Homo sapiens: one gene and its partners. The protein of the gene in region 5 purifies or fractionates together with the protein of the main gene of each other region. This does not show direct contact. Each region holds a gene or a part of one and is shown on either strand. Other genes may lie near its edges.

The links.
Region 1: the proteins of SLC35F2 (region 5) and GALNT1 purify together in Homo sapiens (affinity purification with mass spectrometry; one large-scale study listed by BioGRID and IntAct). This does not show direct contact.
Region 2: the proteins of SLC35F2 (region 5) and TM9SF3 purify together in Homo sapiens (affinity purification with mass spectrometry; 2 studies listed by BioGRID and IntAct, with this or other methods). This does not show direct contact.
Region 3: the proteins of SLC35F2 (region 5) and LMBRD2 purify together in Homo sapiens (affinity purification with mass spectrometry; one large-scale study listed by BioGRID and IntAct). This does not show direct contact.
Region 4: the proteins of SLC35F2 (region 5) and RTN3 purify together in Homo sapiens (affinity purification with mass spectrometry; one large-scale study listed by BioGRID and IntAct). This does not show direct contact.
Region 6: the proteins of SLC35F2 (region 5) and TRAM1 purify together in Homo sapiens (affinity purification with mass spectrometry; one large-scale study listed by BioGRID and IntAct). This does not show direct contact.
Region 7: the proteins of SLC35F2 (region 5) and SLC9D1 purify together in Homo sapiens (affinity purification with mass spectrometry; one large-scale study listed by BioGRID and IntAct). This does not show direct contact.

The regions. Positions count from the first base shown.
Region 1 is NC_000018.10:35,580,275-35,584,539, forward strand, and holds the start of GALNT1 (polypeptide N-acetylgalactosaminyltransferase 1), read left to right. Parts: upstream 1-1,465; 5' UTR 1,466-1,588; exon of another isoform or gene 1,589-1,594; intron 1,595-4,265. UniProt on the Homo sapiens protein: Catalyzes the initial reaction in O-linked oligosaccharide biosynthesis, the transfer of an N-acetyl-D-galactosamine residue to a serine or threonine residue on the protein receptor.
Region 2 is NC_000010.11:96,580,513-96,584,012, reverse strand, and holds part of TM9SF3 (transmembrane 9 superfamily member 3 precursor), read left to right. Parts: intron 1-3,500.
Region 3 is NC_000005.10:36,141,888-36,145,387, reverse strand, and holds part of LMBRD2 (G-protein coupled receptor-associated protein LMBRD2), read left to right. Parts: intron 1-1,981; 5' UTR 1,982-2,038; coding exon 2,039-2,212; intron 2,213-2,788; coding exon 2,789-2,886; intron 2,887-3,500. UniProt on the Homo sapiens protein: Recruited to ligand-activated beta-2 adrenergic receptor/ADRB2, it negatively regulates the adrenergic receptor signaling pathway. May also regulate other G-protein coupled receptors including type-1 angiotensin II receptor/AGTR1.
Region 4 is NC_000011.10:63,688,000-63,691,499, forward strand, and holds part of RTN3 (reticulon-3), read left to right. Parts: intron 1-3,500. UniProt on the Homo sapiens protein: May be involved in membrane trafficking in the early secretory pathway. Inhibits BACE1 activity and amyloid precursor protein processing. May induce caspase-8 cascade and apoptosis.
Region 5 is NC_000011.10:107,848,788-107,852,287, reverse strand, and holds part of SLC35F2 (solute carrier family 35 member F2), read left to right. Parts: intron 1-3,500.
Region 6 is NC_000008.11:70,580,917-70,584,416, forward strand, and holds part of TRAM1 (translocating chain-associated membrane protein 1), read right to left. Parts: intron 2,878-3,500; coding exon 2,734-2,877; intron 2,409-2,733; coding exon 2,248-2,408; intron 1-2,247. UniProt on the Homo sapiens protein: Involved in the translocation of nascent protein chains into or through the endoplasmic reticulum (ER) membrane by facilitating the proper chain positioning at the SEC61 channel.
Region 7 is NC_000013.11:113,546,521-113,550,020, forward strand, and holds part of SLC9D1 (transmembrane and coiled-coil domain-containing protein 3 isoform 1 precursor), read left to right. Parts: intron 1-779; coding exon 780-859; intron 860-1,782; coding exon 1,783-1,932; intron 1,933-2,904; coding exon 2,905-3,018; coding exon of another isoform or gene 3,019-3,032; 3' UTR 3,033-3,500. UniProt on the Homo sapiens protein: Probable Na(+)/H(+) antiporter.

The DNA of each region.
Region 1 (4,265 bases), on a different chromosome or scaffold from region 5:
TTTTGCCCATTTAAAATTGGACTATTAGTCTTATTACTGAGTTGTAAGAGTTCTTCATACATTCTGGCTACAAGTCCTTTAACAGATATATGATTTGCCAATCTTTTCTCCCAAGATAAGAGTATTTTTTAACGATGACAACTTTATTCCAAAGTGAAGTTTCCTTGTGGAACAGTAACAGGCTAGTCATGATTGACTTTGTTTCAAAATATTATATAAGTACTTTTAAAATAGTAACTTTTAACTTTTATTTTAGAATACTTGGAAGATGTAGACAAGCAAAAACAGGATACTAAAATTCCAGAGATAATCTTCAGGTTTTTTTTTTTTTTTTTCGGACAGCCTTTTGGTTATGTGAGAGGTAATATAAATTTAAAAGTGGGACCACTTAAATATTAAGTAATCTCTTATTGCAGCTCTTGGTTGGCAAGCAATAAGACACAAACCTCTGAATTATTTAAGTAGAAAATTAATTTATTAAAAGAATGGTTGGTTATGCCTCGCGTGAGTGACAGAGCCAGGGTTTTGTCTTCTATCTTCAGGGCAGGGTACAGCTGGGTATTGGAATTGTACCAAGCAGTGTTTCCCAAGGGGGCACAGAGGGAGGGCCCCTCTCCGGGCACTGTGCGGGAGCCACTTCCCCAAACAGTCCCCGTTCTGCAAGGGCCCCGGCGTTGCTGCCCCCGAGACCCGGGTGCCTGCCCCGGCGGTGCGGGTCGCGGGCCTCCGCTCTCGCCGTCCTCCCTCAGTCCCGGGCCTCCTGCATCGCGGTCGCCAGGCGCAGGCTCAGCGCGGCTGACAGCGCTCCAGCTCCCGCGCTCGCGGCCGCCTCAGGCAGCCGACCGGGTTGGGGCGGCCCCGCGCTCGGCCCGGGAGCCGATCCGCTGTGAGGGCTCCTCCATCTCCTCCCACCCCGTGACCTGCTCGACGCGCAACAGCCCGAGTTGTCTTTAACTTGCTGCGGCAGCCTCTTTGTCCCGACCCAGGGTCGGGGGCACCTCTCGGCCTGGCCCGGCCCTGCCCGTAGCCGTGTGAGCGGGGGCCGGGACTGGGCGGTCGGTCCGGGAGGGGCGCCGCGCCCGACCCCGGAGTCCCGAGCCCGAGGGGAGCGTCGCGGCCCCGCGGTGGGCTCGCCGCAGCGGAGGGGGCGCGCATCCGGGTGAGCGCCGGCGCCCCCGCCTCCCCCGCGCAGCCGCACGGGCCGCCGCCGCCGCTGCCGCCGAGCACGCAGCGCAGGGAGGACCGCGCCCGAGCGCCTGCGGGCGCCCTGCGGCGCCCGCCGCGCGACGAGCCCCAAGTGAGCGGGCAGGCGGCGCGCATGCGGGGCGGCCCGGAGTAGCGCCGCCCGAGCCCGCGAGCGGGGCGCCCGGAGTAGCCGCCGACCCGAGCCGGGCGCGGAGGCGGGGGCGGGCGCGGCGGAGCGGGGCCCGGCCGGACCCGCCCGCCCGCCGGGGGAGCCGCCGGCAGTGGCCGAGGAGCGCGCGGCGGACGGCGGCCCGAGAGTAGCGCGCTGGCCGCGGGACCGGCCGCGACCGCCGCGGCCGGCCCGGAGGACGCCTGCCGCCGCCGCCGCCGCGCGCCTAGCGAGGTGAGTGTATCGCCCGCGGCTGGGCAGTCCCGGAGCCGCAGCGCTGCGCGCGGGTCGGAGGTGGAGAAAGAGGCCCCGCCGCGGCCGCGTCCCCGGTCCCTTTGTGGCCGGCGCTGCCTGGGGCCGGGGCGCGGGCACGCTCGGCGCGGGTTCGGGTCTGGGACCCCGGTGCCGTTGGACACGCGGCGTCTCTGGTTGGCAGCTTTGGCGAGCAGCGAGTTTCCGTCCTAGTTTGACATTGAGTTAGAACCGTTTTTCTTTAGAAGACGGAAGTTTGTTTTATTGACAAAAATAAAGCTAAATATGGCTTCTGGGTTCGGCCGTGTGGTACTTGCAACCGCGGTGCCAGCCTGACCCTCGCGGCGCCACGGGGGAGGGGAAGACACGCCGGCAGCGGGGGAGGGGGCTTCCCGGCCCGCTGCCCCCGAGGAGGACCCGGACCTAAATTAGCAAATGTTTGTGGTTGGGAAGTAGCGGGCTTTAGGTAATGTAGTAGCTTTTCCGCTTTTCCTGGAAGAATGAATGAATGAGATGTCATTTACTCATCCATAATCAATACGTTGCCCATTTAAGCATTTACCAGGAATTGGGATGATTTGCATTGTCATTGCTTCTCTTATCTGGTCAGCCTTGCTAGATGAGGTTCCCTTACTCCCCAGATTTGTGACCTTGTCCTCATTCTCAAAGCCACTGAGCTAACCAACCCGTCTACCAAACTCACTTGGCATTTTTTTGGTCAAGTGGGCAATAGGCAAAGTAGTCTTTCTGAACTGTTTCTGGAGGGCAGAGAATGTCACTTTGATCATATCTTATGTTTAATACATTGCTTTATAATCGTGTCAAGAACGCTGAGAGTTAGGAGGTCTTGTCATTTCACAGATGAAATAGTGAAGGCCCTAAGAAGTTGCAACTTTTCAGGTCACAATCTGAGCAGCAGAGTTGGGATTCAAACCTAGACCTTGTTAGTCCAGTCCTCTTTACATCACATCTGTGTCCAGACCTGGACTGTCCAGCGTGGGAGCCACTAACCACATGTGACTATTAAAATTAAATTTTAAAAATTCAGCTCCTCGGTCACAGTAGCCACATTTCAAGTGTTCCATAGCTAAATGTGGTTCTTTGCTACAGTTGAACAGCCCTGGTCTAAATTATACATACATTTGTTGTGTCAGTAAATATTTACTGAATGCGATCTGTCTATGAGGCACAGTTTTAAGTTCTGGGTACATGGTGAATAAGGGAGACACAATGTCCTTGCCCTATTGGAATTGACATTTTACATGATCCTTTGAGGATGTTTCCATGGTACTCCGAGTCCTGCTATTCCAAGTGTGGATGGTGTACCAGCAGCATCCCTGTCACCTCAGACTCAAGTAATGCAGAATGTGAAGCCCCGCTGCACATCAACTGAATCAGTATCTGCTTTACCAGGATTTCAAGTTATTTGTGTGCACTTTGAAACCTGAGAAGCCTTTGTTCAGCGTGCTGGTGATAACTGCGTTTAATGACTGCTCTGCTGGTTTGTTTGGTGCCTCTTAAGCAGCAGACTGCAAAACTCTTGGGAGCACTCACCATTTATGCAAATACTTGTTAAATGCCTGGCTTTCTCAATAGAGTTTAAGCTTTATGAGAGCAGAGATTGTGGCTTCCTTTTCCAGCCATGTATCACTGAAGACTTTACAGTGCCTGGTAAGCAATAAGCACTTGGTATAAATGCTTGTTGGATAAACGAATGAGTGTGCTAGGATACTTAAGCGTGGTTGTTAGCTGGGTGTGGTGGCATGCGTCTGTAGTCCTAGCTATTCCAGAGTGACAGCGCGAGACCCTGTCTCAAAAAACTGAAAACCCAACAACAACAAAACTGATTGTTAATCCCAAGCAGTTACAGGCAAGGTAATTCTCATGACATCAGGTGAGAGAGCATGGGACCAGAGTCAAAATGAAGATAGATCTGTTTGTAACTTTCAGTGGGACGCTCCAGCTACTCTGACTGGAGTTTTGCTCCTGGCTCACTTGCATGCCCTATCCCTCTTTTAACTAATATAATAATAATTTTGAATCTGAATCACACATTAGTGCTTCATATAGTTTTTAAAAAATTTTGTATTTTTTTAGGTAGCTAAATTCCAGACATTATTTGGATTTCACCAGTTTTTCCGTTAATATCTTCTTTCTGTTCCAGAATCCAGTCCAGTGTACTACATTGTATTTTGACATCATGTTTCTTTAATATTTGGTTTGTGATAGTTTCTGTCTTGTCTGGTTTTCCATAACTTTGGTAGTTTTGAGGAATACTGTCCTGGCTTTCTTTGATGGACAGCTTTCCATACTCATTCTCATGAAAGGTCACAATCAGGTTGACGCTGTTTCTGCTTTTACTTATTTATTTATGTAATACATCTGTCATGCTTATGTAACATACAACTTTGGTACTTTTTTTTCAGTAACAGATTTCTTGGATACAGTTCCTAATTGGTTGAGATGCAGAAGAGTGTTATACCATTGCAGTTATATACCAAGTTTTATTTTTTGATGGGTTAAGAGCTGGGCTGAGGTAGAGGAGGAAGGAAAGAGGAGAGATCAGTTAAAAGAGGCAGTTAGGCAAAGAGGGACCAAGGCAAAGGGAGTGACAGATAATGGAGGAAGAGGAGTGCGGCAACTTCGTAGAAGAGAGTTA
Region 2 (3,500 bases), on a different chromosome or scaffold from region 5:
ACCCAGGCTGGAGTACAGTGGCACAATGTCCACTCACTGCAATCTCTGCCTCCTGGGTTCAAGCAATTCTCCTGCCTCAGCCTCCCTAGTAGCTGTGATTACAGGTGCTTGCCACCATGCCTGGCTAATTTGTGTATTTTTAGTAGAGACGAGGTTTCACCATGTTGGCCAGGCTGGTCTTGAACTCCTGACCTCAGGTGATCTGCCTGCCTCGGCCTCCCAAAGTGCTGGGATTACAGGTGTGAGCCACCATGCCCTGCTGGCTATGCACTGTTCTAAGTATTTTACACTTATTAACTCATCTATTAATAACCTACGAGGTGAGTAATATGCCCATTTTGTAGATGAGGAAAGTGAATCTAGAGAGGTGAGGTCACCTGCAGATAACACACATCTGGTAGGGGTAGAGGTGGGATTTGAACTTAGGCATTCTGAGTTGATAGTCTTCTGCACTGTGAGCCGCCATATGCTCTATTCCCCTTTATCCTAAAAATAAGACAGTAAAGCACTAGGTATTGAGTGGTTCTCTATATTGATTTTTAAGTGCTTAAATGCTTAAATGCTCGAATGAGTGTGGCTCCATGATGAGTTGTTTCTGAGATCTTTGGGTTAGCATTAAGGAGCAATAGTGTTGACTTCATGGGCACGTGCCCTGAATAGTCACAAAAGACTGTGTGAGAGCTTGTTTTCATGCTATCCTGTAACATCTTGAAGTTTTAAATTTTTTAACAAGGGGCTCTGTATTTTTCTGTACTGGGTCGCACAAATTATATAGCTTGTCCTAAGAAGGGACAATACCTTATGCCCATTCCCCAAAGCCCCTGATATCTCTTACTGTACCTACTGAATTAGGATTCAGGTGGCCATCTGACCCATATGGTATTTTTTTTTCTTTTTCTTTCTTTCTTTCTTTTTTTTCTTTTTTTTTTTTTGAGACTATGTTTCACTCTTGTTGCCCAGGCTGGAGTGCAATGGCGTGATCTCGGCTCACTGCAACTTCCGCCTCCCGGGTTCAAACGATTCTCCTGTCTCAGCCTCCTGAGTAGCTGGGATTACAGGCATGTGCTACCGTGCCTGACTAATTTTGTATTTTTTTAGTTGAGACAGGGTTTCTCCATGTTGGTCAGCTGGTCTTGAACTCCTGATATCAGGTGATCCGCCTGCCTCGGCCTCCCAAAGTGCTGGGATTATAGGTGTGAGCCACTGCGCCTGACCCTATGGTATATATGTATATATTTTATGTGCTTATTTGTCCAAAGTTATTTTAATATTCTCTGAAGAGTGTTGAAAAGGAAATGTGCTATTGACTGTATGTACATATCTAGAATATGTAAAAATGTGTTCCTTTTAATTTTTAAAAGTTGAATCATATGCATTACAGACATGTTGTTTGAAATGAAAATTAACACTTTTGTGGAAGACAGGCTTTTAATAACTGATTGAAGGGACATAGGCTTCTTTATAGTCAGTGAAAGGTATGTTTATGCTTATTTGGTTTTCTAAAACTCAAAGCACTTGGAAGCATCTAGAGTTAGATTACTATGTCTCCTAAGATTCCGAAGGACTCCATTAAAAACAATTTCAGATTGAGAATCATAGAATTTTAGAACTAGAAAGACTCAATAATTTAATCCAAAACTCTTCATTTTCCTAATGGCCTGTACAGGTTCAGAGACTTGCTCAAGGCCACAGAAAGAATCAGAGCTTCCTGATCGCCAGTCTTGTCTTTTCTACCTGTCTTTTACATGTAATTCCATAGTTATAATATGTAAAGATGTTAGCAGCAAAAACCCAGTACTTAGGGGCACAGGAATCTTAGAGCATTTTATAGTTTGCACTGTAGCCTTGAATTTTTATGGGTTCTGTTTCCTTAACAAGATCACAAAGTCAGATTTTTTTTTTTTTGGTCTGTTATATACGCAAGCACTGTGCTTGGCACAAATAGTACTTGATGAGTGCTTGTTGAATGACTTGAATAATTAGGGAGCTACTAGTGACAAGGATATGCAGTGTGGAAGCACAATGAACAAACTGAGGCCGTTATTCCTTTAAGATGCATAGTCTTCTGTTTTGATTTGGGGGTCCTACCTAGGCTAAAATTCCCTATTTCTCTGTGGCCCAGTGTACTTCTGGTAATCTTGAGACTTCTAATGTTGGACAGACTGGATGCCTACTAGAATCGTTTACTCAGCCTCTGCCTCATAAATAATTTGTATTATATCACGGAGTGATTTCAGAAATGTTTTGTTTGATTTACTTTGGCAAATGGAAACCTTTTGTCTTTGTCTCTGTTGGGAGTATAGGAACTCTTAAAACTTACTGAAAACTTATAAAGAGTATAAGCTGTTTACTATAAGTGAATTTGTGAGTTATCTAATGTAGATTGTTAAATGCCGTAATTCGTTGTCCTATTTTCAGCTCTACTCAATGATAGACTGAAAGTTTATTTAGGTACAAAGCTATTTTTGAGAGAGAGTAGTTATCTCAAGAGACTATTCAAAATTACATTTCTAATTTATTTGTATTAGAATTCTGATGTGTGTTTTAATAATTTAAAGGTTTTGAAATTATGATTTCTGGAACATTATTTTGAAGTAAACACATATATTTTTCCCCCTTTGTATGAAAATGAAGGATAGCATTTGGGTGCTTGTTCTGAACCCTCAGTCCTTTGCTCATCTATGTAAATTGTGATTTCTTATTCAGATTTCACATGACCACGTCAGCATATTATCTTCTAAAGCGTTTCTCCTGATAATAATTAATTCATTACCTCTGTCAAGGAGGAAAACTTTGGTACCCCCCCAACACATAAACAGTATTTAAATAAGAGGGGCCCAACATTGGTGACTTCTTGAGAATAAAGGTCATTCCTTTTGAGATTAGAGTGCAAATAGCTTCTTAGAAGGTTTTTTTTCTTTCAGGCAGATTAAAGGCTCACATAGAAAAGTTATTCAGTGTTCAGGACTGTCTTTAGTTGCTTTGTACACCTGGCACTGTTTTCATATTTCCTTGATTTAGTTTTTTGCTCTTTAATGAATGAAGCTGACTAGGGATTAGCAAAAATACTAACCTTTTAAACTTGATGCTGATTGATTTGGACAAATTACTTAACATCTCTGTTCTTTAGTTTTGTTTTTGTTTTTAGTCTGTAAAATGGGGAAGTAATAGGACCTATTTTATAGAATTTTGAGATGATTATTTAAGTGTTCATATAAAGACCTTAGAACTATACCTAGCTCATAGTATGTATTTATTGTTAGCTACTGATGTTATTATTACAAAAATGGTGAGATCATGTCATGTTAGGGTTTGGTGAGTTAAGGCTTTACTTGAGGATTTGAAAAAGGAGGATTTGAGCATTTCGGAAGGATTATTAGAGTTTGGCTAAGTGGAGAAAAGGAGGGCATTCTAAATTTGGTGGAATGACGAAAGAAGATGAAGTGGGGCCAGGCGCAGTGGCTCACGCCTGTAATCCCAGCACTTTGGGAGGCCGAGGC
Region 3 (3,500 bases), on a different chromosome or scaffold from region 5:
CTTTGTTGTGGTATAAGTTGTTTCATAGAATATGAAATTTGAAAATTTGAGTAGTATTTGGTAATGTTCAGAGTTTTAAGCCTTTTGAGTTGTAATAAGTATTTGTTAAATCAGTTTACCATTACACGAGTTTTACATTGCCTTTGAAGTCGTCAGTAATAGAAAAATAGTGTATGTACTAAACTACACAGTATTTTTTATTATTTCAACAAATATTTCTTGATACTACTGTATGCCAGGTACTAACTACATCAGACAACTGGAATATAGTATGGAATAAAATAGTCAAGTCTCTGCTCTCATAGAGTCTCTGGGGTAAGGGGAGAGGTGTGGAGAGACAATAAATATAAAGAATGTGTATTATATCAGATGAATAAATGCATTGAAGGAAAATATAGCAGGATAAGAGGGTAGAGATTGATGAAAGAAGTTCAATTTTAGATAATTAAGAAAAATGAAAATATTGACAGTTGAAATGGAAACTGTTTACCAATATAAAAAATAGTGAAGAAAATTGTTCATTAAATGTGATTTTTCTATGTGATAGTTCATGTAGGAGTATTTTGTATATAAATTTAAATTTAACCATTTAAAGTACTTAAATTGTCTTTTCTATTATTCTAAATAGTTTTAGTTAAAGATGTTTGTTGATTTGAAGTATTTCATTGGTTCTCCCTTATTTTGTTATTTATTTATTTATTTTGAGACAGAATTTTGCTCTTGTTGCCCAGGCTTCAGTGTAATGGCACGATATCGGCTTACTGCAACCTCTGCCTTCCAGGTTCAAGCGATTCTCCTGCCTCAGCCTACTGAGTAGCTGTGATTACAGGCACCCGCTACCACACCTGGCTAATTTTTGTATTTTTAGTAGAGATGGTGTTTCACCATGTTGGCCCAGGCTGGTCATGAACTCCTGACCTCAGGTGATCCGCCTGCCTTAGCCTCCCGAAGTGCTAGGATTACAGGTGTGAGCCACTGCCCCTTATTTTATTTTGTTGGGTTGATCACACTCTTGATTCTCTGTGTTAGGATATTAATCAATTCCTTGAAATACTGTAGTATGTAGATAAACAAAAGTCTAACATTGATTTTACAAAGGAGAAAAAGTTCATATTGCCTTTGATTAGTAAATTTTTTTAAGTATAGAGAGATATCAAATTTTTCAATTTTAAAATAGAGACTTTAAATCTCTATACTCTAACTTTTTTGAGTAGAGAGATATCAAGTAAACTATTCGCTGATGACTGTATCATAAAATTAAGAATGTTTTCAAATGTATGACTTTAATAGTCATTGATAAATTTTCTGCATATAAAATAGTAGAAAAATTAAAAATGAGAATTTATCAAAGTAAGTTTAAAGATTTATGTAGATAAATGGAAGTGATAAATATATTTTGTAAAGCAGTGAGTAAGAATTTCATGAAAGTTGAGTTGTTAGGTGAAATTAACACAAAAGAAAAATACTATTTCAAAAAACAAAAGGTTACTTTTAAATGGTCTCTTTCCGTTTTTTCCTTCCTCTCTTTTAGAAAATCTTAAATTATAGAGGATGAATAATCTTAGTAAAATGTATTTTACTAAGTATCTAATTTCCTAGGATTTAGTTAACAGCTTATTTGCATAAACTATTCTGTTAGGACTTATAATATTAAGAAACAAACTCCAGATGACACTGTATTAAAACTGTTCACATCTAAAATAAGAACTTCTTAATTTGTAATATTGTAAGAACTAATAATTTTTGTTAAGTTTTTGAAAATACAAGGTACGTGAAATTTTTTAAGTGTGCTTTAAAAATAAAATATAAGTACTTGAGGATAGGAATTACCCTTTTAATCTTATTCATAGTCCAATGTGAAGCATGACATTTCTCCAAAGAGTTGATTAATGTATTAATGTACTAATAAATATTCAGATGAAATTTCCAAATGTCATTTCCTGTGTTAATGATGCATTTTAACCTTCTTTTTACTTTATAGATATGGTCCAGACCTGTACATGAATAACTTTGGTTAGTCAGAGTGAAATATTCAATAATGAGTGGTGCAGCTTTGGGACTTGAGATTGTTTTTGTCTTTTTTCTGGCATTATTTCTGCTTCATCGATATGGAGACTTTAAGAAACAGCATAGACTTGTGATTATTGGAACACTGCTTGCTTGGTATCTCTGCTTTCTTATTGTCTTCATACTGCCTCTGGATGTTAGTACGGTAAGGAGTGAAATTTATTTTCACAATTTAAAAGACAAATTTTAATCATACAGCATGTTGGAAATAATGTTATTTCTTAAGACAGCTAAGTTATGTCAGTTTTGAATTAAAAGATTATATGGCCATTTGATCATTAAAAAGCATAGCCAAGGGCCGGGCGTGGTGGCTCACGCCTGTAATTTTAGCACTTTGGGAGGCCCAGACTGGCGGATCACAAGGTCAGGAGATCGAGACTATCCTGGCTAACACGGTGAAACACCGTCTCTACTAAAAATACAAAAAAAATAGCCGGACGTGGTGGCGGACGCCTGTAGTCCCAGCTACTCGGGAGGCTGAGGCAGGAGAATGGCGTGAATCCGGGAGGCGGAGCTTGCAGTAAGCCGAGATCGCGCCACTGCACTCCAGCCTGGGCGACAGAGTGAGACTCTGTCTCACACAAAAAGAAAAAAAAAAAAAAAAGAATAAAGCATAGCCAAGAAGGTAAGTTTAGATAGATAGATTTATAAACTCTGATGTCCTTTAAGTACTTGGTAACCTTTTGATTCTCATTTTTAAACCATACATTCGTTGCTTTAGACAATATACAACCGGTGCAAGCATGCTGCTGCAAATTCAAGCCCTCCTGAGAATAGCAACATTACAGGATTGTACGCAACTGCTAACCCTGTTCCAAGGTATTTCCTTTTTTAAAAAAAATATATAAACATTGTAGGGGACACATTGTTTAAAAATTGAAAGTTTTTACCATCCAGACTTTATATTTATGTAAGTTATCCTCATTCTCTACTAATTCTCCCCACCTCTATTCTTTCCTAGTAGACTTTTCATTACATCATATTCTAATTAAATCTAATTTTTAATATTTATTGGTCCACAAAGCCCTTCAGTAGACGGTAGTGAGAAACTTGAAGAAGTCCTGATTTTTTAGTCCTGGTTCTTCTTTACCAAGTATGTAATTTCTAAAACCTGTTTTTCCTCTCAGCCTATCTCAGATTTAAAAACGTGGGATGTATTTTCACTTTTGCCTAATTTACAAGGTTATAATAAAGACAAGTATTTCTGAACTTATGGTATTCCTTTCATATTGCACATCCTTCAAAAGCATTATAGATTTACATAAAAAATTAATAAAGTTCAAATTGTCCAAAGATTATATTGAATTCATATCGAACTTTTAAGTAAAAAGCTTATATATGTTGACTATAGCCTTTATGAATGCTTTCAGTAGTATTTGCATGCTTCTTTATGCATATTTTTAAAAAATCTAACTTCAGAAAAGGTAAATTTA
Region 4 (3,500 bases), about 44 Mb from region 5:
GAGGGAGGAGTCAAGATGTTTCCCAGAAGGCTTGGCATGAATCAATATGCTTAAATACTTATGCAGATTCTGACTAATAAATGTTGTTATGATACATTAGGAAACCCCTTTCAGCACAGAGGCAAGCATACAGGAGACAGCAAGAATGGTCATGTCAATATGGCCTGCAAATGCCTGCTGACTTGGATTGTTTTTATTCTCCAAGAATAAGAAGTGTGTTTTGCTTTTTTTTTTTTTTTTTTGAGACGGAGTCTCGCTCTGTCGCCCAGGCGGGAGTGCAGTGGTGCGATCTCAGCTCACTGCAACCTCCATCTCCCAGGTTCATGCCATTCTCCTGCCTCAGCTTCCCAGTAGCTGGGACTACAGGTGCCCACCACCACGCCTGGCTAATTTTTTGTGTTTTTAGTAGAGACAGGGTTTCACCATGTTAGCCAGGATGGTCTTGATCTCCTGACCTCATGATCCGCCAGCCTTGGCTTCCCAAAGTGCTGGGATTACAGGCGTGAGCCACCACGCCCGGCCAAGAAGTTTTTTTTTAATGCTGTTTTTGTTTATTGTCAAATTCACAAGTAATGGAACCACTCTGATCAAATTAAACAACCAATCTACATACATTTAGTAGGTGCACCCTTACCCTAAATTGTCATTTCTAAGGGGTTGTTCATTAAGTGGCTGGTAAGAACCTCAGTGTTTTTATTCTTGGTGTTTTAAAGATGGGCTGAAAATAAAAACCAATATTACTGCTTTTATCAAATTATCCTGTGAGGAAATAATATATTTATCCTGATATAGGAGTTACCTGTCTAGTCCTGTGCATGTTTCAAGCCTTGTAAAATGAAGTTTGGTCATGAAGGAATTGGTGACGTCTGGTTGAAGGGAAAAGGGAAAGTTGAGCTTTCCAATTTTGTTTGAGTCAAGAGTATATTTTGCAGAAAGACACTTCTCTTTACCCATAATCCTAGAATTTACCATTTTTGTAATTCTGAACAGAATTACAAAGGCTTCATTAAGTAAGTAGGTTTTCTAATATAAATGTGCATATTTGTTGTGTGCACTTAGCTTATAGTTTGTGTTAACTTTATTGTTGATGATGAATTTAGCCTCCTAAAGTATACAAACTTGTGAAAAATTCATCAATTTTGTAGTATAACTTTTTCTCTTAATTTAGCTAATACTCTTTGTATTGTTCTAATTTTGGTATATGTGCTGCTGAAGTAAGCACTCATAGTAAAACTTTTTAGACAAAAATTAGCAGGTCGATATTTTGTTCTTATAATTGACTTATTCAGAAGTTGCCCAGAAAACTGACTTAACCTTCTATTCTGTTCATTTATGACAGCTACTAGTTGTAGAGTTATTTTGGATCATAGGGTATGGTGTTGATGTTTTGAAAGAAGTGTGTGTGTTAAATAAGTTTAGCTGTAATCAGTATTGCTTGTGATTGCATCATTGAAGTCTTCTGGGCATCTGTGAGTTTTGTAAGACATGTTACTCTGTGATATTGCAACCTCAGAGAGAATCTCTTTAAATACTGTAACGGGGTTTGCATTTCCATTTTACGTATGGGAGAAGATTATCAGCAAGTGGCCTGCTCTTGTGATTTTTTTTTTTTATTTCAAATAACTATTCTTACCTGTTTTCTCCAATCAACTGATTTATTATCTCCTATAACCATATCATTGTAACCTAACCAGAGAAGACAGTGAGCTTATCAGCAAGTGGCCCACTCTTGTGATTTTTGATTTTTTTTTTTTTATTTCAAAGAACTATTTTTTTGAGACAGAATCCCCCTCTGTTGCTCAGGCTGGAGTGCAGTGGTGGGATCTCTGCTCACTGCAACCTCCGCCCCCCGGGTTCAAGCGATTCTCCTGCCTCAGCCCCCTGAGTAGGTGGGATTGCAGGCTTGTGCCACCATGCCCAGCTAATTTTTGTATTTTTAGTAGAGATGGGGTTTCACCATGTTGGTCAGGCTGGTCCCGAACTCCTGACCTCAAGTGAACTGCCCCCGCCTCGGCCTCCCACAGTGCTGGGATTACAGATGTGAGCCACCACACCCAGTCTCAAAGAACTATTCTTACCTGTTTTCTCCAATCAACTGATTTATTATCTCCTGTAACCATATCATCATAACTTAACCAGAGGGAACGGTGAGCTTTTTGACCTGTTCCTCATTGGTAGCTCGCCCTTCAAGATATATGGAAGGACATTCTGGAAAACCTTTTGTTATGAAAATTGTGTCCTGTTATTTGAACATATTTCAGTGGAGGGCATTGTCTTTATTTTACGTATGAGATAGAAGTACTTGATTTTCACGATATCTTACATTTGTGTACTGCTTTATGATTTAAGTTGTGCCCATATGTTACCTTAATTCAACAACTGAGCATACATGAAGGCTCTTTGCCAGGTGCTGTGGAAGACAGAAAGGTAAATAAAATATAGATCATTCCTCTAGAGGCCATATTCTATAGAGGAAAGACTTGTATTATGTTTATCTGTGAGGTAGACAGGTAGCGATATAACCCCCTTCTTACAGATGGGGACTCAGGCACAGAGAGTTTAATGCCCACGCTTTAAGATTTGAAGCAACATGTAGTAAAAGTGGCTCAGTTACCCTTTTGAATTCAGTGATCAGTTTAATTTAAAAGTCTTAATTTCTGGCTCCACGGTTCTTAAGCCAGGTGCCTTTTTATTTCACTGCTCTACAGAAACTTTCTAGTCAAGTTCACCAGATATTTTCCACATTGTTAAATTCAGTGGTCACTTCATCCTCCTCTTAACATGCTTTCACAACAGCTTTTGACATAATTGATTATTCTCTCCTTGAAATGCTTTTTTAATTTGTCTTCTGTGACACCACATACTCACTCTCACTGGCTTTTCATCCTCTGTCTCCATAAAATTCACCATTTTAAGGTGGGTTTTAGTGTATGCACAAGGTTGTACAGCTATCTCCACTATCTAATTCCAGAACATTTTTATTACCCCAAAGAGAAACCCCATATCTGTTAGCAGTAATTCACCGTTCTTCCCTCCCCTCAATTCTCTGACAACTATTAATCTGCTTTCTGACTCTGTGGATTTCCTTATTCTTGAGATTTAATATTGCTAATTCTTTTTTTTTTTTTTTTTTTTTTTTGAGATGGAGTCTCACTCTGTCACCCAGGGTGGAGTGCAGTGGCACGATCTCTGCTCACTGCACCATCCGCCTCCTGGATTCAAGCGATTCTCCTGCTTCAGCCTCCCAAGTAGCTGGGATTATAGGCATGTGCCACCATGCCCAGCTAATTTTTGTATTTTTAGTAGAGGCAGGGTTTCACCATGTTGGTCAGGCTGGTCTTGAACTCCTGACCTCAGGAGATCCACCCTCCTTGGCCTCCTAAAATGCTGGGATTACAGGTGTGAGCTACTGCGTCCGACCTAATTATTTTTATTTTGATAGAGACGAGGTCTCACTATGTTGCCTAGGCTGGTATTGAACTCCTGGGCTCAAGCGATCC
Region 5 (3,500 bases):
GAGCCACTGTGCCCAGCCAATATTGTGTTTTTAGCAGAGATGAGGTTTCACCATGTTGGCTGAGCTGGTCTTGAACTCCTGGCCTCAAGTGATCCACCTCCCTTGGCCTCCCAAAGTGCTGGGATTACAGGCCTGAGCCACCACGCCTGGCCAACACCCACACTCCTTGTTATTGTCTAGCAACAGGTCTGGGATACACCTGTGCTTTCTCCTTTCATTTTGGTTTCCGCCTTCCACAGGGTAAAGTCCTAGACATTTTTGAAGGAGTCATTTAGTTGTGCTTAACTGTGCAGACTTTATCCAATCAACAGACATCTATTGAGCTCTCACTGTGTATGCAGCATAAATCCCAAGCTGGTATGTATCCCTGCTGAAGGGTATTGTTTATAGTGTTATTTAAACAAAGATGTAAAGTTAGGGATCTTTTGTGGCTTGTGCAGTTCCCTGGGGAATTGGGGAACTCTGGATTCTACGAGTCTCCATAAATTCTTCTCCCTTCCCCCTTTTTACTATGAAATTATTTACTATCTGCCCATTCTACTAGACTCCAGGAGTCAGGAATCATATCTAGTTATGGCCATTGTATATTCTGATTGTTACATTACTGACCTTGCAATAGATTCACAAAAAATATGGGATGCATGGCTGAGAATGAATCCTTAATTCCAATAGGCATTGTATAAAGGATTACATCCCTTTTTTTTAGAAAAAATTTCCACTCTGCATTATATGTTTGTGACCCAGTCATGTTGTTTTTTTCATCTAGTGTGTTTCTCAACCTCAGCCTTTTTTTTTTTTAATTTATTTTTATTTTTATTTTTTTTGAGACGGAGTTTCTCTCTTGTCACCCAGGCTGGAGTGGAATGGCGCAATCTCCAGTCACTGCAACCTCCGTCTCCGGGGTTCAAGCCATTCTCTAGCCTCAGCCTCCCAAGTAGCTGGGATTATAGGCGCCTGCCACCATGCCTGGCTAATTTTTGTATTTTTAGTAAAGACAGGGTTTCTTTCTTTCTTTTTTTTTTTTTGAGACAGCATCTCACTCTGTTGCCCCGGCTAGAGTACAGTGGTGCGATCTCAGCTCACTGCAACCTCCGCCTCCCGGGTTCAAGAGATTCTCCTGCTTCAGCCTCCTGAGTAGCTGGGACTACAGGCACGTGCCACCACTCCCGGCTAATTTTTGTATTTATAGTAGAGATGGGGTTTCACCATATTGGCCAGGCTGGTCTCGAACTCCTGACCTTGTGATCCGCCCACCTTAGCCTCCCAAAGTGCTGGGATTACAGGCGTGAGCCACCGCGCCCAGCTAAAGACAGGGTTTCACCATGTTGGCCAGGCTAGTCGCGAATTCCCAACCTCAGGTGATCCACCCATCTCAACCTCCCAAAGTGCTGGGATTACAGGTGTGAGACACTGTGCCCAATCAACCTCAGCCTTCTTGACATTTTGAGTTGACTAATTCTTTTTTTTTTTTTTGGAGACGGAGTCTCATTCCAGGCTGGAGTGCAGTGGCATGATTTTGGGTCACTGCAGCCTCCCCCTCTTGGTTCAAACGAATCTCTTGCCTCAGCCTCCCGAGTAGCTGGGATTACAGGCACCTGCCACCACGTTCGGCTAATTTTTGTATCTTTAGTAGAGATGGGATTTCACCATGTTGGCCAGGCTGGTCTCGAACTCCTGGCCTCAAGTGATCCACCTGCCTCGGCCTCCCAATGTGCTGGGCTTATAGAAGTGAGCCACCGTGCCCGGCCTTGAGTTGACTATTTGTTGGGGCTGTTCTGTAAGATGTAGATACCTGGCCCCACCCAATAAATGCCAGTATAGCACCCTCACCCCCACTCCCAGTTGTGATATTCAAAAGTGTCTCCAGACATTGCCAAATGTCTTCTCGGGGACAAAAATCATCCCTAATTGAGAACCACTGATTTAGTCTATTGTTTTTACCTGCTACAGAGTATTCTGTGGTTCCGTGGTCCATCCACCAGTGTTAGACAACCAGACAGCTTCCAACTCCCAGCCTCCACAAACATCACTGTGATGACCACTCTCATACATGTCCCCTATGTGCTGAAGAACGAGATGATAGCCAGGCTTGGGTCTGAGTCCCTCTAGGTAGAGGGGAGGGGATGCACCCCAGGATGGAGCAATCTTGGGCACTACAGAATCACCCTTGATTTCTGTTGTTCAGTGACTGTCCATTAAGCTATTCCTATCAGCTGCTCTGAAAGAAGGAGGAGGCAGTCTCTCTAGGTTACAGCCCATTAGCCCAAGGAGCTTGGAGAGGGTAGGTGAGGAATGATTGCTGGCTGGACAGCCTGAACCTGTTTTATTAATTTCTCAACACTGGAGGGAGTTGTTAAAGGGGCAGACATGTACTGTAGGGAGAGGTAAGACTGGAATTGAAAAGCTTTTCTCCAGCATGCCCTCCACTGGGCCTCTGGTTCCTCTTTCTGCCCCAGGCTGTAGTCTCCTTCTTCCCCTAGACCAGTTCTAGACAACCTTTGGGTTATTCCTTCTTTTGTTTGCTTCTTTCTTCTGGTTGACTTGAAGGAAGTCAGTGCTTATTCCCTGTCTTGACAGCGCTTCCAGAATAGTCCTAGAGTCCACCTCCCCCTTCAATCCCTATTGTCTTTTTTTTTTTTTTTTTTTCCCAAAACGGAGTCTTGCTCTGTCGCCCAGGCTGGAGTGCAGTGGCGCAATCTCAGCTCACTGCAACTTTCGCCTCCCAGGTTCAAGCGATTCTCCTGCCTCAGCCTCCTGAGTAGCTGGAATTACAGGTGCCTGCCACCAAGCCTGGCTAGTTTTTGCATTTTTAGTAGAGACGGGGTTTCACCATGTTGGCCAGGCTGGTCTCAAACTCCTGACTTCAGGTGATCTGCCCACCTCGGCCTCCCAAAGTGCTGGGATTACAGACGTGAGCCACCGCACCTGGCCTCAATCCCTATTGTGACTAATTCAGTTCAAGCCTTTATCATCTCTCACTTAGACTGTTGTAATAGCTTCCATCCATGCCTCCATCTATCCCCGACCCCAATCATCTCGCTACACAGAAGTCAGAGTGATGCCTAATAAAACGAAAGAGTATTAATGGCTGTCATCAAATGAGAATTCGCTGTGTATCAGGCACCCTACTTATATTTCATCAATCCTCATGACAATCCTACAAAAATAGGTTTTTTATTCTGTTTTGACAGACAGAGCAGGTAAGTAACTTACCCAGGACACTTGGCTGGTGAGAGGCAGAGCTGAGATAGTTTCATTTGTTTCTAAAATCCAGAGCTGCTTTACTCTTTCAAAAATCTCATGTGATATGACTAGTTTACTCAAAAAAATTAAAAGAAAAAAAGAAAGAAATCTCACTGCATTATGCTCAGGCTGAAAACCTTTTGGGATTCTTCCCATCACCTACCCTAGTGGTTTGCAAACCGGAGGAGCTCTTGGGGTTCCCTGGAGGTTCCTTAGGGTTCACCATGGGAAACAAGTAGGGGATAGGAGCTGGTGGG
Region 6 (3,500 bases), on a different chromosome or scaffold from region 5:
TTAAATTTAATGAACTGCAAGATGTATACACTGATAAATATAATTGAAAGAGATTAAAAGATCTAAATAAACAGACATTCATGTTCATACTCTGCAAAGCAACCTACAAATTGAAGATAATCCATACCAAAACCCCAGCTGGCTTTTTTGCAGAAACTGACAAGCTCATTATAGAATTCATATTAAAATGGCTGGGCAAGGCAGCATATGCCTGTAGTCCCAGCTACCTGGGAGGCTGATGGGAGAATCCCTTGAGCCTACAAGTTCAAGTCTAGCCTGGGCAACATAGCAAGATCCCGTCACTTAAATAAAAACTCATATGGAAATGTAAGAAACCCAGAATAACCAAAACATAAAATAGAACAACAACAATGGGGACTCACATTACCTGCTTTCAAAACTTACTACAAAGCTACAGTAATCAAGATAGTGTGGTTCTGGCATAAGAATCGACATACGAATAAATGAAATAGAATTCATGATCCAGAAATAAACTTTTCTTAAAAATGATTTTTGAAAAGGGTATCAAGACAGTTCAAGTGAAGGAGTCTTTTTAACAAATGGCACAGGGACAACTGAGTATCAAGATGCTAAACTGAGTGTAAAATAGTATAACCACTTCAAAGAACAGTTTGGCAGTTCCCTCAAAATGTTAAACATAGTTACCGCATGACTCGGAAATCCCACTCCTATGTATGTACCCTAGAGAATGAAAACACATGTTTGAACAAAAACTTGCACCTAAATGTTCACAGCATCACGATTCATAATAGCCAAAAAGTAAAAGGCACTCAATATCCATCAAATGATGAATGGATAAACAAAATATGGTATACATCCATCCAAAAGGTTCCATACAATGGAATATTAATTGGCTGTAAAAATAAATGAAGTCTTTCTATATGCTATGACATGGATGAACCTCAAAGCATTATCCATTTGCAAAACCACATATCACATGGTTCTGTTTACATGAAATGTCCAGAAAAGGCCAATCCTTAGAGACAGAAAATAGATTAGAGGGTGCCGGAGCAGAATGAAGGGGGCAAAGTGAAGTGATGCTAAGGGGCATGGGGTTTCTTTTTGCAGTGATAGAAATATTCTGGAATTAGATAGTGGTTTGCACGATTTTGTGAACATACATTAAAAATGACTGAAATGTATACTTTAAAGGGTAAACTTTATGTGAATTACATCCCATTAAAGCTATTAAAAATATTACTTGGAGAAATTAAAGACAACCTAAATAAACAGAGGTATATATCATGTTAATGGGTTGAAATAGTCAATTATCCCTAAATCGATCTACAGATTTGATGTTATTTCAACTTAATATCCCAGCAACTTTTGTGGAAATTGACCAGGTTGTATAATTTTTTTTTTTTTTTTCTAAAGAGGCATATGTTGCCCAGGCTGGAGTGTAGTAGGGCTTCACAGGCATGATCATTGTGCACTGTAACCTTGAACTCCTGGGTTCAAGTGATCCTCCTGCCTCAGCCTCCTGAATAGCTGGACTACAGGCACCCCCCACTGCACCTAGATCAAGTTGTACTAAAATGTATTAAGAAAATGCAAAGGGCCAAGACTTGCTGGGACAAACTTGAAAAAAAAAAAAAAAGGCAGGGCTGGAGGATGTAAATTATCAGGTATTAATACTTACAAAGGAGTAAACCAGAGTGGACATACTCTAAAAACTTCCTGTGTTATAGTTCTAAGCCTAATACCACATACACACTGAAAAAATTAACTGTAATATCGATGCATTTTCAATTTTTGCAAAAACCATAAGGAAAAAAGAGGTTAAATGAAGGCTTTAAAGACAAAGAATCAAGCAATCAGAAGTTATAAAAAAAAAGCTATTCCACTTGGGACAAATGGGCAGATGGGAAGAGGTTGTGAAGAGCTTTTTAAAATGTGAATAAGATGCTTGAAAACAAACTACCATCCTCAGGTTTAGTTTAAACCTGCCCATAAAGTTTGGTCTAAAGTAGCTCAAGGTAACCAAGCATGGAAAACTTGTTAAAGAGAAATGTGATGGACAGCTTTTGAGGGGAGTAACTGAGTTTCCTCACCCAAGGGATCACCCAATTGTGGAATGCAGTAAGATTACTTTGCCTCTAATTTTGTTGAAAAGCAGAATAGTATTTTCTTTATAAGACACCTTAAAACTAATAAATAAGATCCAACAACAAATTTTTTAAAAGTTTTCTACTTCCATGAGTTTTTCATTGCTTACTGAATACAAACCTGTTCCTTTTTTAGAAGATCTGCCTTTAGTTACTGTTGGTTTCTTCTTCACAGCTGGTGCCTGAAAAGCAGAATGTTCCCTCCACCTTCGAAGCTGAAAATTAATGAACTTCCACATCATAAATGCCTGAGTAACGCAAATGGATGCCAGAACAGCGATTCTAAGAAATATTAAGACATAAAAAGTTAGTGTATAAAAAACAATGCCACTGAATACATTCTATCATCTTTCATAGTATTTAGTAATAATTCCCACTCAGTTGAGAAAATTGTATTAATAATCATTGCATTAATAATTTATCCTAAAAGTTAAATGCTTTAGTACTTCACTTTAGACATGTAAAATAGCAACGGGTATGAAATAAAATCAAATGAGTATTTTCCCCAACCTCATATTCATCCTTTTTTAGATGATTCAATGTAGAGAAACTGATAATATATATTATCTAGCTGTATAAAGTGAAAAAAATGTTAAATTGATCGTACCTAACAGCTAACACATTGAAGTTTCCAGTACTGAAATCCAGCTTCTGATTTTCTGCTCTTGCAAGGCCAAAACCAACAGTCAGTACTGAAAGAATTAAAGTCAGAAGTCTTCCCAAAACAAAAAGAACTGCCCACAGAGAAAATCTGCAAGAAAAAGGCCGTAAGTCAAATTCCTGAAATCTCAAAAACAAGATTCTATTAGAAATTAGATTCCTAAGTTGGGCGTGGTGGCAGACGCCTGTAATCCCAGCTACTTGGGAGGCTGAGGCAGGAGAATTGCTTGAAACCAGAAGGTGGAGGTCACAGTGAGCAGAGATTGCGCCACTGCACTCCAGCCTGGGCAACAAGAGCGAAACTCCATCTCAAAAAAATAAATAAATAAATAAAGAAGAAACTAGATTCCTATTAAGTAAAAGCCTATTAAAATAGCATTTCTTATTCTGCAAAAAAGAATTTTGAGTCAAATATCTGGGAAAGGCTATATATCACACTCAGAGAGATATAACACATATTAGCCTATTTAAATTTCTAAAACAATCCAGGAAATAAATGTTTAATTTTCTGTTTAGCTTATCTCTTTTCTTGTATAAGAACTATTAATATTCCTCAGAACTACTAGTATTCAGAATAATTTTGGAAAATGCTGGACAAAACAAACCAAAAAAGCTGTGTTATAAAGAACAGGATGCCCAATTCTCATTTAAGAGTCCCAGTTTTTGGCACAAGACAGGGATGGCCTCTCTCACCACTCCTATTCAACACAGTGT
Region 7 (3,500 bases), on a different chromosome or scaffold from region 5:
GCCAGTGTTTACATTTGTGTTTCTGGGTCAGGTAGAGACAGTGGTTTGTGAACGGCAGAAAGGTCATGGGCCTGCTCCGTGCACCTAACCCTGGGGTCTGGGTCCTTCCGATCAAGAGGAGGCCTCTGGGCTGCCGGGCTTCCTCCGAGGGCTGACATGCATCACTGGGCAGCTCCAGGCTGTGGCTGGAGAGCTGAGCCCAAGCTCAGGTCCAGCCCCAGCACCGCCGGCCCCTCTGCGTCACTCGGCAGCACAGCAGGACTGAGCAGCCCAGTCCGAGAGTCCTGAGAGCAGAGAGAAGAAATATGTGGAGACAACGTTTCCCATTGTTTTTAAAAATGTGTGAGCCAAATAAAGGAAGGAAAGGAACATTGACCACAGGCGTCCTGTGAGCGTGGCACTCCTGGGCACTCCTGGGCACTGTGGGGCTGTGGGCTCTGGGATCATCTGCACCTCAGCTGGAATATTTCCTGAAGGAGTGCCAGACCGAGTGCCGCCTCTGTGTGTTTTGCTGTGTCCTCTGCAGTTGAGGCCTGTTGCAGGGAGTGGAGCTGGGATCCCACCACATCAGACAGGTCATCCCAGGGCAGGCTTTTCCCCGGTTCGCTCAGGAAAGGGGCGGCTTTTTAGCATTTGCTGTTGCTTTCACACGTGCACTTGGGAGGATTTAGGATTTTAATTCCTGTATTGAAGCAAGTGACACACTGAAGTTGTGAGAAATAGTGTGCGCTGGGGGAGGCTGTCCTGCGGTCGTAACGTGTCTGTCCTGTTCCCAACAGGGCTCCACGTGTTCCCCACGTTTGTGGCGTACGAGCTCACGGTGCTGGTGTTCCTCACCTTGTCAGTGGTGGTGATGAAGGTATGGACTGGAAGGGTCCACGCCCCTCGCAGTTTGCAGGCTCAGCATAGCCCTCCCTGTGGCCCTGGTTTCCAGTGGGGCCCACATCGGGCCTGCAGAGCCGGCCCTGCTCCTCATCTCGGAGGAGGCCCACTGGGCCACTGGACCCCGGGGGAGGCAGATGTAGACGAGGCTGGGCGGTCTGGGTTTGTCCATGTGATCGATTGTTTCAGAATTGAGCGTGTTTAAAGGGGGGAACTAACCTTTTGGGACCCTCAGGACGGGCCTTGGCTGCAGTCCAGCCCGTCCTCCTCTGACAGATGCAGACATGCTTTTTAAAGACTGGAAAATGGTGTAGGCACTTTCTGTCTGTCCCCCGTGACTGCCAGTGATCGAGCTGCCTGTGTCCACATTTAATTGAAGGTGTGATGACCTAGTCAGCAACCAGTGGCTTTCTGGCTCATAGACAGTGACTTAGGTCATTTCCGTTTTAAGGAGCCAGAAGCTGTGATGATCGTTGGACCACTCCACCAGCTCTTAGCTACTCGGCCCAAAGACACACCACCAGCTCTTAGCTGCTCGGCCCAGAGACACACATCTCTCTGTATTAAAAAGAAATTTCCACCTTGAGTACCCCACGCTTAATGCTATTAATCTAGTTTGGTTGGGGCGGGGGCGGGGGGGCTTGGGCAAGGCTTATTATTTTCTGCTAATGAACCGAAAGGCTTAATTTTGCCTTATTGTTCAGTGTGGATTATTTAAGAGGTTTTGCGTGTATTTGGTGCCTTCGGGTGTTTGGAGTGCTTCTGTGCCTTTCCCTACTTGACGTGTTATTCAGGGACCATCGCAGCGTGCCTGTGGCTCGTCTGGGTTCTCTGTTTCGTGTGTGTTTAACTCTGTGTGGGTCCAGTCTTCAGCAGTGACGTAATGAACCGCTCTTGCAGTTTCTCCTGGCGGCGCTGGTCCTGTCTCTCATTCTGCCGAGGAGCAGCCAGTACATCAAGTGGATCGTCTCTGCGGGGCTTGCCCAGGTCAGCGAGTTTTCCTTTGTCCTGGGGAGCCGGGCGCGAAGAGCGGGCGTCATCTCTCGGGAGGTGAGTGGCTTCCCCCCGCGGAGCGCTTCTCGGGCGGCACGGGCTGCACTCTGGGTTTGAGTCGGGTGTGGCGAAGGCGGCTCGGCAGCACAGCGGGGCCTGGGGGCAGGGTCCTCCTCCAGGGGGGCACGCAGAGGCCTGGCTGCTCTCTGCTCATCCAGCATGTGGCGTTTTCAGAGGAAAGTTGCAGTTAGTACTGCTTGAACTATTGCATTAACCTTTTACAACAAGTCTAATTAAATGTCAGATATTTCTTCTGAAAGAAAACTAACTTTTTAAAGCTGAACTGCCAGTGTGCACATAAGTAGCACCCCAGAAACGTGAAATACCCGTAATGGCAGTGTGCCCGGAGAGCTGGGTGGAGGTTCCTGTGGACACTGAGATGGCCCTGGGCATTCGGACTCACGGCCTTGTCTCCTTGCATTGTGTAAGTGTGAGGCGGGTAGAAGTCCAGGTGTTGAGTGCAGTGGAAGTAATTGCTGAAAGGTAGAATTGCTTACAGGAAGCTCCACCTGAGGCCTGACCCAAGGCCGCATCCCCAGGGTCAGGGAAGCTGTGGGGCAGGCTGGCTTGTTACTGTGGCCCGGGGTTGGCCTTCAGGCAAACACAGGCTAAAGCTGTTATCCTGTGGCCCATCAGGACTAACCATGCATCACTGATCTTGAAATCACAGTCTCTCCTACATCCCAATGTCCTCAGCTTCTGGCTGTACTTCCATGTGCTTTAAAGAGATAGTAGTGAATTTATGATGTGCAGGCGTCCCTCCCAGCACTCGGCATGACCGCGCTTAGCTTCCATCCCCCACCCCCCCGTGCAGGCATCCCTCCCAGCACTCAGCGTGACTGTGCTCAGCCTCAGGACTCTAGCTTTGCAGGCGTCCCTCCCAGCTCAGTGAGACCAGCCCTGTGCTTTCCTGTTGCAGGTGCTAGTCCTGACAGTCTCTGTGACCCGCTCTGCACTTTGCTGTTGCAGGTGTACCTCCTTATACTGAGTGTGACCACGCTCAGCCTCTTGCTCGCCCCGGTGCTGTGGAGAGCTGCAATCACGAGGTGTGTGCCCAGACCGGAGAGACGGTCCAGCCTCTGATGGCTCGGAGATGATGGACCGTGGAAGGGAAGCGTCTGTGGGGAGTGAGCGCTTAGATGGCCAGCAGCTGCTCCTTCTGGGAAGCTCGCACCTTGGCAACAGAACAGCCCTCTAGCAGAGCGTCAGTGCAGTCGTGTTATCCCGGCTTTTACAGAATATTCTTGTCCTATTTTAGAATTTTCCGGAGTAGTTTATTTGCAGTCTGTTGATTATGTGCAGTAGACCCGGGACACTGCGTTTTACCGATCACCTTGAATGTGGTGCCTGGATGTGCCTTTTTTTTTTTTCCCTGAAATTATTATTAATTTTCTATTGTGAGTTCATCAGTTCATAGTTTTTTTAGTAAAGAAGCAAAATTAAAAGGCTTTTAAAAATGTACAACTTCAGAATTATAATCTGTTAGTCAAATATTTGTTATTAAACATTTCTGTAATATGAAGTTGTAATCCTGGCCGTGAGCTTGGAAGCTTACTTTTGATTCT